Regions from separate parts of the Homo sapiens genome. Here all the other regions are linked to region 1. Evidence: fine-mapped expression QTL. A gene starts in region 1. Each other region holds a variant in brackets. All regions are shown on one strand. Distances are from middle to middle.

The links. PIP is the estimated chance that this variant, and not a neighbour inherited with it, causes the effect. A credible set is the group of variants that fine-mapping cannot tell apart.
Region 2: its variant is the best candidate, but not a certain one, in a credible set for the expression of NEMP2 in tibial artery (GTEx, PIP 0.53).
Region 3: its variant is the best candidate, but not a certain one, in a credible set for the expression of NEMP2 in whole blood (TOPMed, PIP 0.86).

Annotation. Positions count from the first base shown.
Region 1 is chr2:190,532,304-190,536,544 of GRCh38, reverse strand. NEMP2 (nuclear envelope integral membrane protein 2) reads left to right here and starts at 1,823. Exons shown (of 9, transcript NM_001142645.2): 1 at 1,823-1,986. The coding sequence starts at 1,890. NEMP2-DT (NEMP2 divergent transcript) reads right to left here and starts at 1,707. Exons shown (of 5, transcript NR_183903.1): 1 at 1,424-1,707. RefSeq lists a silencer at 1,510-2,159.
Region 2 is chr2:190,559,773-190,564,013 of GRCh38, reverse strand. The region is part of intron 1 of NEMP2-DT (NEMP2 divergent transcript); the gene reads right to left. It also overlaps a transcript of NEMP2 not described here. Among named protein-coding and RNA genes, the nearest start is that of NEMP2-DT, 27 kb to the right of the region's middle. The variant C/T (reference allele first, on the strand shown) is at 1,850.
Region 3 is chr2:190,473,750-190,477,990 of GRCh38, reverse strand. The region is part of intron 4 of MFSD6 (major facilitator superfamily domain containing 6); the gene reads right to left. It also overlaps a transcript of NEMP2 not described here. Among named protein-coding and RNA genes, the nearest start is that of NEMP2, 59 kb to the left of the region's middle. The variant C/G (reference allele first, on the strand shown) is at 2,321.

The DNA of each region.
Region 1 (4,241 bases):
ACCTGAACCTTAGATGTGGGGCTTTCCCAGTATTCCTGACACTTTCCCATTGCAGCCAAATCCTTCCTTTATCTGTGGTGAGTCTTGAGTGAGAGAGGGTTTCCCAGCAGTAGCCAACTTCAATTTTCTATTGGTTCAGGACACAGAGCCCTAGTGTTTCCTGCTCCTGCTGCTCCCCAAAGGGCAGAAGGTTTGTGCTTCTATCTCTTCTCCAGAAGCAGGGGGTCTTTGCCAGGATCCTGTTGGTGGTAAAGCTTCCTGCCCTTCCCCCAGTGGATAAGGTTTTCATACAGAAGAAAAGTTTGGAGAGGTTAAGTGGAATTTCATGATTGTCCCCCAGTGACAGAACTATCACCTCCTAACATTCTTGTTATCTCCGGAAAAATATTTATTGCTTATAGAGAAAAATGTGGTGTTTCAATATAGCTTCTTTACAGATATTTACTAAGGATCTGTGATATAAATAGCACTTTAAATATTTAGTACATTGCTGCCTGCCCTTTTGTTTCTCCACCAGATATATCTGTAGAAAATACATTCATCATTCAACAACCCACCTGTTTATTTTAGCTACTTTCCATAGTGCCATCCAAAATTAAACCAAATCAAAATGAATGTGGTTAGGTACAAAAGCTGTCTTGCAAGAAGCAAGTGCACACCGCACCTGGGAATACAGGAAAGAATTGGATCAGGGCTCTGCTGTTTCTCTGAAGACAGGCTTCACTCAAGTAATGATGGTTTATTTTTAAAAACCATCCCTCTGAAGAGTCCCTTACAAGGAAATTTCTTAACTTTTTAAAAGCCATACATGGTGTACACATGGTGCCAAGTGCTTAAGGGCAGTTGGTTAAACCTTTCTTTGAGGGCAAGGAAAGCCTAGTCCATCCTACTCAGACTTTTAGGAAAAATGAGGCTTATCTATTTTTAACAGGATAATTTCTGTTACTTTGGGTTCTCTAAGATATCTCACCAAAAGACCAGAATTAGAGAAGACTGTCCTAGTTAAGTATGGAATATTGAGTCAAATTAATGGGTTCCAGGTCCTGTGGAGGGAATGTTCTTTAAAATATATGTATATCTCCTAATTATCAGTATTAAGATCATTCAGGTTATATGTTAATTTAAAAATATATCTATTACATTAAGAAACTTTTTTTTAACATAAGGTAATTTTAAGAGAACCTTGTCATGTTGGTGAAGGAACATTTTACGAGCCCCTCTGTACTCTGAAATGCCGTGTCCGAGATTAGACATACAAGTCAGTGTTACTTAAGCGGCCAAATTTCCAATTTGTTATTGCTTGTTACCAAATGAAAGTAAAAAGATAAACAGAAAGGTAAAATAAAGAAACTGGCTTTTATGTATTTTATTCACAAAAAGGGCGTTTGCCGAAGGACCTTCCCATTCACGGGCTGTCACTCACAGGTGCTCGGAGAATTCAGCCTCCAAATCCGCAGGTCACAGGTCAGCCAAGTTTTAAGAAACACTCCGGGTTAGCGACTCTTCCTCTCTGCAACTCCCACCCCTGCGCCGAGGGCAGCGGGACACGGCCGGGCGGTCCCCAGGGGAAGATGAGGCCCTGGACGCCCCGCGTGCGCTGGAGGCCCGGAGGCCAAGGCCGAGGCCGAGGCCGAGGCCGGGAGCATGCCAGCGGGGTCGCGCCACCGAAAGCTCCTCCGGCCTGGGCCCGCCGTGCCCCGAGGCCGCGGGCGGAGGCTGGAGCAACGAGCCCAACTCTCCCTCCGCCCCGGGGAGGCGGGGTCTCCGCCTTTCCCGCGTTCGGGCCTCACCGCCCCCTCCGCCTTCTCTGAGCCCCCGCGCCACTTCCGCTCCTCGCAGCGGAGCCGGTCCCCTAGGGCTCGGGTCGCACGGAGCTGACCCCTAACGAAATGGGGCCGCGCCAAGGGCGGTGGTGGCTGCTGCTCTGGCTGCCGCCCCTGGCCACACTGCCCGTGCGCGGGGAGGCGGCGGCGGCAGCGTTATCAGGTAACCCGGGACCGGCGGCGGCGGCGCGCGCGTGCGTGCTCGCTCCCCGGCTTCGCGGCTGCCCTGAGGGCGCGCTCTTTGGCCCGGGCGGCACCGCGAGGCCCACTGGGGCGGGCGCTCCCTTTTCTCGCTTTGGGGTCTCCCGGGCAGGCCCCGCCCGCCCTTCCTGTCTTACTGGGCTTCCGTAGTCTCTCGCCTGGCAGTTGGACATTTTGTAATTTTAGAATTAGAAGCAACCGCGCGATCCAGTCGCCCAATTCCCTCGTTTTACAGAAGCAACCGAAACTCAGAGAGGTTTTGATTTGCCCAGGGTCACACAGCTTGTCACTGGCACAGCTGACCCTAGTCTCCAGACTTTCAGCACACGGCCTTTTGTACAGTACATCAATGCGTGTTGAAATCCTTGTTATTTCACTATCTCGCATTCCTTTGGTCTCAAGACTAGAGAAGGTAACAGCTTCAGCTTCAGAATCGGAGCGAAAATTCTTCTGCCCCTGACTGTTGTGACCTTGAGCGAGTAAACATAACGGTCCCACGTGAGCGGCAGGTAATGAGGCCTCACAAGGTTCTTGTGGTGTTCGTGTGCACAATGCCTGGCACACAGGAAGCAAGAACTGGTAGCGGCTGCTAGCTGTAGGGGCTCGCCACGGAGTGGGCTTAAGATGCTGGCACACTGGGGAAGGATCTGGGAAGGACACCTGGGGAAGTCAGAAACCTAGAGTTCCAACTCCAGACCTGCCGCTAACTTACCATGAGCTTCACATTTCTGTTTCTTTTTTTTTTTCCCCTCATAAAATCTTTTAAAAGATTTCCTGGGTGCACTGTCTACCAACTTCCCTTCCTTGCTTTGGCTACCCTGGTTTCAAGGGAGGCTGCCAAGTGTATTCTTTTAGCTGGGCATGGCCCTCCCTCCGGTTATACCGCGGTTTTTTATCTAAGGATGAATGAGAGACTGGATGTTGATGAGGTCATTATCAGATTCTGCCACAGCTCCCAACTGAGGGAATCTTGCAGTGAGTTATATGTTGGGGAAGTGTTGGATTCCAGTTTTCATTGAAGAGAAATTTTTTGAGTGTTCAGTATGTGCTAGGCAGTGTTATAAGTGCTTTAACTGCAGTATCTATCATATTTAATACCCATAGAAGCCCTATGCGGGAAAGCACCATTTTATACCCATTTTACAGATGAGAAAACGAAGGTTTGGTAGTAAGAAATACAACAATTTTATGCTGGTGAAAAAATAAAACACAAATCTGTCTAAGCAGGAAGGTTTCTGGGCATGGCAACAGCGAGAAAATTAGAAGTAGCCTTAGACCAGCACCCAGCACCTTGGGTTCTAGACCACTCATTCCTTCAGCCACAACTTGTGGTATAACCTTGGTCCAGGCACAGAGTCTTTATGGACCGTAGTTTTCTCTTGAGTAAAATGAAGATGTTTTTACTGAAGAGTTTCCAGTATTTTCCTCACCTCAGTGAACCTGGTGTTTTTAAAGTTTTTATGTTACCGCATTTAGTATAATAGTAACAGCCTGCTTCTCTGCTTTGTTAATCAAAGACACACATAAATACTTATTGGAGCTTCTGTTCTGCCTGAGACATGCAGGATGCCCACTGACTTGATAAAACTAGTCCACAGCTAAGAAGAATGGCAACTTTTGTAGCCTTAGAGGGATGCCTGCCATTCCGGTAGGCTTTCCAATACGGACTGTGAAGCGCCCAGCATCTGGTAGTGTGCCAGTGACACTGTTGGCAGCCCTGGATTAGACTAGGCTTAAGAACCATAGCTGCTCTTTAAAAGTCTATGGTTTCTTGAGGACCCTGAGAGGAAACAGCTGGTACTTCCTTTAAGCGAGGGGCTTGGATTAGTGATACCTAAGGTGCCTTCCTGTTCTAAAATTTTGTCTTGAATAACACACACTTCAATGGAATGGAGAACATTCAGACCAACCCCAGCTTTCTGTCACTCTATTTGGAGGAAAGTCAGAGACAGTTGACACAGGAGGAGCAGGTAGTTGTCTGACTGAGAGGAGAAACTTCAAGAGTTTCCCATAATTTTCACCCAGTTAGTGAGGTCCCTAGAAACCATGTGTTGTCCTGAGATGAAGTTCAGGCCCTGTCAGTGGCTTTCCAGGCTTAAACTATAACAGTCCATTTGACACCACAGCTTTAAGATTCATCTGTGAAGATTTGAACTTGAAGTTAAAGACCTGAGTGTGCATGAGTATATACTAATTCCAGTTTCATTCTCATATTCT
Region 2 (4,241 bases), 27 kb before region 1:
TGACTTTAATTCTGGAACATTAGGATAGCAACATTAGGGTGATTCAGGGAAGCCTTTCTAGTAGCCTTAAAAACATAAACAAGTAGCAGAGGTTGGCCTCCCCGCCTCCCCTGGGGCCAGCCCCACAGAGTAGGGAGGCCTTGGCAGGGCTTTGATGAGTGGGCTGGCCCTTGTTTCTGGTATTGGCTCTGGAATTGCTCTGGCATAATTCACAGCCAATTAATCTTGTCAGGCAGCCTATTGATTCCAGCTATAGCTCAGACACCATCATTACAAATAACCATCCCAATAAGCCATTATCTCATTGGTGCACCCGTTCACTTCAAAATGTGAGTGAAATATTTCAATTTAGACAAAAGATGGGGAGTGTGTTTTCACTGAAACAAGTTACAATGCTCAAAGTGTATACATATACGTTGTGGTAGAGTTTTCAAAAATAGAAAATCCAATTATTGAGTAGAGGAAGTATTGAAAAAATAATCTAAGCATAAAAATGACTGTTTATCAACTACTCATTTGTGGATAAACTTGTTGATCAAGGAAAAAAACATAATGGTCATTAGAAAAAAATTATTCTCCCTCACCCCGCCACTACCGCCCAAAGCACATTCTTGAGCTTTGTCTGCTGAGCAGTGGGAGTGTGAAAACGTCTACCTGCGTGAAGGAGAGAAGATGAGTGGGTGGGTTTGTGGGAGAACAAACAAGAAGGTGGTTGAGTGGGTGCCGGGTCACTGGGCCTGTGTGGGAGGAGGCTGGGCCGCTGAGTCAGCGGGGAGCAGGAGGGCAGGTGCGTGTGGGTGATGAGTGGGTGGCAGGAGAACACAGCACAAAGCCACCTTGCATATGTGAATGTCTCAAGGAAACATTCCACAGGGCTGTATAAAAGAGCATTAGAAAACAATTAATTAGAAATTCTAGTCAGAAGAGGAAGAGCAAAGCTTTGCTGATAATGCTATCATACAGATAGTCATTTTGTGTTTATAAAATTTTGCTTTTCAGAATTATATTTGTGTTTTATAGCCTGATCACTGGAGGAGAACCTGCCACTGACATTGATAATGAATATTTCAGCTTATACATAGTTTTAGGGTGATCTCAGAGTTACCTCTATAAACAAGAGTGGCCCAAAACAGAGCAGGGGAATGAGTTGAAAACTCAAGGTTGAGGTAAACTCAAATTTCCCATCTAAAATAAGCCTTAAGACCCTAGGAAGAAAAGGGTACTTTTCTTTCCCTATGTGTTAGTCGATGGCATTTATAGTTCCTTTTGTAGCTATACATGATATTTAAAAAAATATGCCTTAAAATCTGAAATTGTAGCATAGATTTATATAAAGTTAGGGCAAAAAAGAGTCATAGAGACCATCTTCCCATATTTTACATATTTTCCCATATTTTGCAGAATGAATTAACTGATACTTAGAGAGCTTAAAAGGACTTGTCCAAGGGGTGGGATAGGAAATCTGTAAAGTCTGATCAATCAATTGATCCATCAATAAGCAAACATGGATGGAATGCAAAGGTGCCAGCCCCAACCCATGGCAGCCTCCAGGGAGAGATGTAATGCAGAAACTTGGAGGAAGAAGCTAGGGAGTGCTTAATGCTCCATGGAGAAGTGAGGCACTCTATGGGCTGGCACAGCTGGTTGCAGAATAGAAAGAGCCCCACCGTGGTGCTGCTGTACATATCTATGGGCAGATGGGAGGGACTGGGAACACTTAGCTCACTGTGTAACAGTGTGAGCTTCCTGGCTGGGAAGTCACTTTATCAGACCAGAGCTTAGCTATGGAGTTCACACCCCATTTCTACTGGTCTGTTTTCCCTTTGAGCTAATTCAGATGCTGAGCTTA[C/T]TTCTTGGTCGACTACCCAAAGAGGGAAAAAACTATTTGGATTTTCTCTTTTCAGTCATCCAGGTCATCCTAAATCAAATATTTCTGGTTGCTCTCTTCCTTTTTACCAAAGTCCTTTAATTACCCTTTGAAAACTAGCTTTTCATTTACATTTCTATGTATTAAGAATATCCAGTCAAGGGCAAGATGAAACAGATGGGCAACAGTAACTACATAGTAAAATAAAAATTAAGATCCTCTTATTTTAAAAAATTTTAAAAGTTGGTAGCCTCTGAGACTCTTCCAGGGGCCATTAAAATAGAAAATCCACCTTTCTACCATGCAATTAAGCAACTGAGCTCATTATGTTATGAGAATAACTGTGACATTAATTGCAGTACTGGTATTTTGGCATTTATTTTGCAGAATATATAAATGCCTGTATTTGATTTTTAAAAAGATAGACATATATGGTGTTATGGACTGAACTCTTCCTACCTCTCCCACCAACCTCCCTCCCCCATCCCCTCTGCTAAAAAGTGTATGTTGAAATCCAAACCCTAGGACTTCTGAATGGGACTATATTTGGAGACAGAGCTTTTATAGAGGTAATTAAGGTAAAATGAGGTCATTAGGGGTGGGCCCTAGTCCAAACTGACTGGTTTCCTTATAATTAGGACATAGACTTGCATAGAAAAAGACCACGTGAAGACAGAAGGGGAAGACAAGTCAAGGAGAGAGGTCTCAGAAGAAAAACCTGCTGACATCCTGATCTTGGACTTCTAGCCTCTGGAAGTGTGAGAAAATAAATTTCCTGTTGTTTAAGCCACCCTTGCTCGAGCAGGCCAATACACATAGTTTTCATTATTTGCTACACATTGTCCCCAGGTGTTCCCTATCTGAGACAGGGTTAAGGTCCAAGACAGGGGTTTCTCTCTCCTACTTCCTGACTCTTCTCAAGTAGGATGATTGGAGAAGAAGGGCCTGTTTGAAATAAATTACTCTAGGAGAGGAGGGAAGGCCACAGAGAATGAGCGGTCCTGATGGGAGCAGACAGCATCAAGCCCCAGCATGGGAAGGTAGTAATGGGGCCTAGGAACCTCCTTCCCACTGCTCCATATCTCTCCTAGTCCTCGAGGAAGAAGCACTGGGCACACCTCTGCTCCACGTGAAATATTAACATAGTGTATAAATTCTCTGAGTATTTCTCAAAACATAAATGGTTTTGATTTCTGATGTTAGATATACTAATCTAATGATATTGTACCAACAAATACAGTATTTTGATATTTAAAAGTAACCTGAGATATAAAAACTGGTATTTGTATTTCTAATTCTACCCAGAGCTCAGCTCATTAAAGCTTACAGTTTACAGGATTGAGTCAAAGTGGCTAATCTTCCTACACACCTTGAGGATGTTATATGAATGAACCAAATGCACAATAAGTCGATGGCACTTCAAACAACAGACTAATTAACATTTTTTGGTTAGAAGTTAATAAATTCCTTGTCCAGAGTAGGCTCTCAATAAATATTTGTTGAGGTAAAAAAGAAGGTATCACCTAAGATCAAGTGGCATATTGGTTCAGATGTACAAAATTTTAATCCAGATGCTCAGTTTGTTTTTAAAAGAAGGTGATCCAAAATAATTAGGACAAATGTCATATTTTCTTTAATTTTACATTATGTATGCTGTTAGAGTATAATTTTAAAAAAGATAAAATGACTAACATGCAAGTAGAAATGAGTAGATATAGAAATTGTATTTAACACACTGAGATGAGAGAACAATGAGATGTTAAAACCGATGAGCATTTGAGAAGCTAGTCATATAGGCAGTTGAATAAAGAAAAAAAGAAGTGTGATCTAGTGATGAACACCAGCCTGGAGACCACTGCATTCATGATTTGCCTCTGCCTACTGCTTTCAACCCTCTGAAGCATTCCTATCCCAGCAGCAAAACTGCTTGACTCCCACCCACGGGCTCCTACCTTAAATCAGTCCTCTTTCCAGGCTGAAGAAATGGAAGTAGTTTTTATCTCTAACACAGCAACTCACCTGGCTTCTCATTTTTGCCCTGATCTTCTGCATCAGTACTTACAAGTGGTCTTCTGCTTTATGTCCTGAGTCTGGCCCACACATTGCACACCAGAGCTGATACCAGCCTAAATCCCTGTGCATCAGCTGCAGGCTTGGAGACCTGACCAGAACTGCCACCCTTTTAGGACTGAGCTTCTGCCTCACTCACCTCCTCCTTTTAGATACTGCCTATCTGCATCTGAATCCCAGAGCAAAGCTTGCAACTCTGCAATGGCTGACAGATTTCCCGGGTGCCAGCTACCTCCCTGGAGCAGCCAAACCTCACCTACTTCTGGACCTGCTGCCAGGGGCCAGGATACTCCTCTCCACTCAC
Region 3 (4,241 bases), 59 kb after region 1:
GCCATTCTGTTCTCTTCTGTGCCTTCGCACACAGCTCTTCCCCCATGCTGGAATGCCTACTCTCTTTAGACCACCTGGTAGATTCCTATTCGCCCTTCAGAATCTAGCTTATGTGATTTTTGTAGGGAATTTTTCAATACAGTCTTCATCCTCCCACTCCCTGCTTCACAAAGTTAATTATTCTCCTTAGGGTAAGCTCCTTATCTGCTACCTAGCACATTTTTCTATGATTCCATCTAACATGCTGTATAGTTATTATGTGTTTACACATCTGGCTTCCAGAACAGTTGGTGAGACCTTGTGGCCTGAGTTAATATATGTATATATTTTATTACATTCTCAGCACCCAGCATGCTGCCTGGCTCTTAGTCACCATTTAATATATCTTTAATAAATTAACAGGAAAATGCATTTTTAAATTCACACAGCATTTGTTTTTTCCTCTTATAAAATTATTCTGTTGTTCTTTAACCGTTTCATGGATGTTCTCTTTTCTTGGGTCACTTATGGAAACCGTCCTTTTCCACCTAACTCATTTTAAACTAAAAGGATAAAAAAGTTATATGCATGTATTATTATAATATATAGTCATTTCTTTTCTGTAGGTATACAAATCTTTATTTATAGAGTCTGCACACTGTAGCATACCAATAAATAAAGCAATTAAGCCAGGTCAGGATAGAACAGGAACCAGAGGTGGGAAATCCTAAGAACTGTGTTGCATATTACCTTGTTATTGAATCATTCTTACCTGCAGTTCCTGTTTAATGCATTGTTATTATTATTATTATACTTTAAGTTTTAGGGTACATGTGCACAACGTGCAGGTTTGTTACATATGTATACATGTGCCATATTGGTGTGCTGCACCCATTAACTCGTCATTTAACATTAGGTATATCTCCTAATGCTATCCCTCCCCCCTCCCCCCACCCCACAAGAGTCCCCAGTGTGTGATGTTCCCCTTCCTGTGTCCATGTGTTCACATTGTTCAATTCCCACCTATGAGTGAGAACATGCGGTGTTTGGTTTTTTGTCCTTACAATAGTTTGCTGAGAATGATGGTTTCCAGCTTCATCCATGTCCCTACAAAGGACATGAACTCATCATTTTTTATGGCTGCATAGTACTCCATGGTGTATATGTGCCACATTTTCTTAATCCAGTCTATCACTGTTGGACATATGGGTTGGTTCCAAGTCTTTGCTATTGTGAATAGTGCTGCAATAAACATATGTGTGCATGTGTCTTTATAGCAGCATGATTTATAATCCTTTGGGTATATACCCAGTAATGAGATTGCTGGATCAAATGGTATTTCTAGTTCTAGATCCCTGAGGAATCGCCACACTGACTTCCACAATGGTTGAATTAGTTTACAGTCCCACCAACAGTGTAAAAGTGTTCCTATTTCTCCACATCCTCTCCAGCACCTGTTGTTCCCTGACTTTTTAATGATTGCCATTCTAATTGGTATGAGATGGTATCTCATTGTGGTTTTGATTTGCATTTCTCTGATGGCCAGTGATGATGAGCATTTTTTCATGTGTCTGTTGGCTGCATAAATGTCTTCTTTTGAGAAGAGTCTGTTCATATCCTTTGCCCACTTGTTGATGGGGTTGTTTTTTTCTTATAAATTTGTTTGAGTTCTTTGTAGATTCTGGATATTAGCCCTTTGTCAGATGAGTAGATTGCAAAAATTTTCTCCCATTCTGTAGGTTGCCTGTTCACTCTGATGGTAGTTTCTTTTGCTGTGCAGAAGCTCTTTAATTAGATCCCATTTGTCAATTTTGGCTTTTGTTGCCATTGCTTTTGGTGTTTTAGACATGAAGTCCTTGCCCATGCCTATGTCCTGAATGGTATTGCCTAGGTTTTCTTCTAGGGTTTTTATGGTTTTAGGTCTAACATTTAAGTCTTTAATCCATCTTGAATTAATTTCTGTATAAGGTGTAAGGAAGGGATCCAGTTTCAGCTTTCTATATATGGCTAGCCAGTTTTCTCAGCACCATTTATTAAATAGGGAATCCTTTCCCTATTTCTTGTTTTTGTCAGGTTTGTCAAAGATCAGATAGTTGTAGATATGTGGCATTATTTCTGAGGGCTCTGTTCTGTTCCATTGGTCTATATCTCTGTTTTGGTACCAGTACCATGCTGTTTTGGTTACTGTAGGCTTGTAGTATAGTTTGAAGTCAGGTAGTGTGATGCCTCCAGCTTTGTTCTTTTGGCTTAGGATTCACTTGGCAATGCGGGCTCTTTTTTGGTTCCGTATGAACTTTAAAGTAGTTTTTTCCAATTCTGTGAAGAAAGTCATTGGTAGCTT[C/G]ATGGGGATGGCATTGAATCTATAAATTACCTTGGGCAGTATGGCCATTTTCACGATATTGATTCTTCCTATCCATGAGCATGGAATGTTCTTCCATTTGTTTGTATCCTCTTTTATTTCATTGAGCAGTGGTTTGTAGTTCTCCTTGAAGAGGTCCTTCATATCCCTTATAAGTTGGATTCCTAGGTATTTTATTCTCTTTGAAGCAATTGTGAATGGGAGTTCACTCATGATTTGGGTGTTTGGCTGTTACTGGTATATAAGAATGCTTGTGATTTTTGCACATTGATTTTGTATCCTGAGACTTTGCTGAAGTTGCCTATCAGCTTAAGGAGATTTTGGGCTGAGACGATGGGGTTTTCTAGATATACAATCATGTCATCTGCAAACAGGGATAATTTGACTTCCTCTTTTCCTAATTGAATACCCTTTATTTCCTTCTCCTGCCTGATTGCCCTGGCCAGAACTTCCAACACTATGTTGAATAGGAGTGGTGAGAGAGGGCATCCCTGTCTTGTGTCAGTTTTCAAAGGGAATGCTTCCAGTTTTTGCCCATTCAGTATGATATTGGCTGTGGGTTTGTCATAGATAGCTCTTATTATTTTGAGATATGTCCCATCAATACCTAATTTATTGAGAGTTTTTAGCATGAAGGGTTGTTGAATTTTGCAAAGGCTTTTCTGCATCTATTGAGATAATCATGTGATTTTTGTCTTTGGTTCTGTTTATATGCTGGATTACATTTATTGATTTGCATATGTTGAACCAGCCTTGCATCCCAGGGATGAAGCCCACTTGATCATGGTGGATAAGCTTTTTGATGTGCTGCTGGATTCGGTTTGCCAGTATTTTATTGAGGATTTTTGCATCTATCTTCATCAGGAATATTGGTCTAAAATTCTCTTTTTTGGTTGTGTCTGTGCCAGGCTTTGGTATCAGGATGATGCTGGCCTCATAAAATGAGTTAGGGAGGATTCCCTCTTTTTCTCTTGATTGGAATAGTTTCAGAAGGAATGGTACCAGCTCCTCCTTGTACCTCTGGTCGAATTCAGCTGTGAATCCATCTGGTCCTGGACTTTTTTTGGTTGGTAAGCTATTAATTATTGCCTCAATTTCAGAGCCTTTTATTGGTCTATTCAGAGATTCAACTTCTTCCTGGTTTAGTCTTGGGAGGTTGTTTGTGTCAAGGAATTTATCCATTTCTTCTAGATTTTCTAGTTTATTTGCATAGAGGTGTTTATAGTATTCTCTGATGGTAGTTTGTATTTCTGTGGGATCGGTGGTGATATCCCCTTTATCATTTTTTATTGCGTCTATTTGATTCTTTAATCTTTTCTTCTTTATTAGTCTTGCTAGCGGTCTATCAATTTTGTTGATCTTTTCAAAAAACCAGCTCCTGGATTCATTGATTTTTTGAAGGGTTTTTTGTGTCTCTATTTCCTTCAGTTCTGCTCTGATCTTAGTTATTTCTTGCCTTCTGCTAGCTTTTGAATGTGTTTGCTCTTGCTTCTCTAGTTCTTTTAATTGTGATGTTAGGGCGTCAATTTTGGATCTTTCCTGCTTTCTCTTGTGGGCATTTAGTGCTATAAATTTCCCTCTACACACTGCTTTGACTGTGTCCCAGAGATTCTGGTACATTGTGTCTTTGTTCTCGTTGGTTTCAAAGAGCATCTTTATTTCTGCCTTCATTTCCTTATGTACCCAGTAGTCATTCAGGAGTAGGTTGTTCAGTTTCCATGTACTTGAGCAGTTTTGAGTGAGTTTCTTAATCCTGAGTTCTAGTTTGATTGCACTGTGGTCTGAGAGACAGTTTGTTATAATTTCTGTTCTTTTACATTTGCTGAGGAGTGCTTTACTTCCAACTATGTGGTCAATTTTGGAATAGGTGTGGTGCTGAAAAGAATGTATATTCTGTTGATTT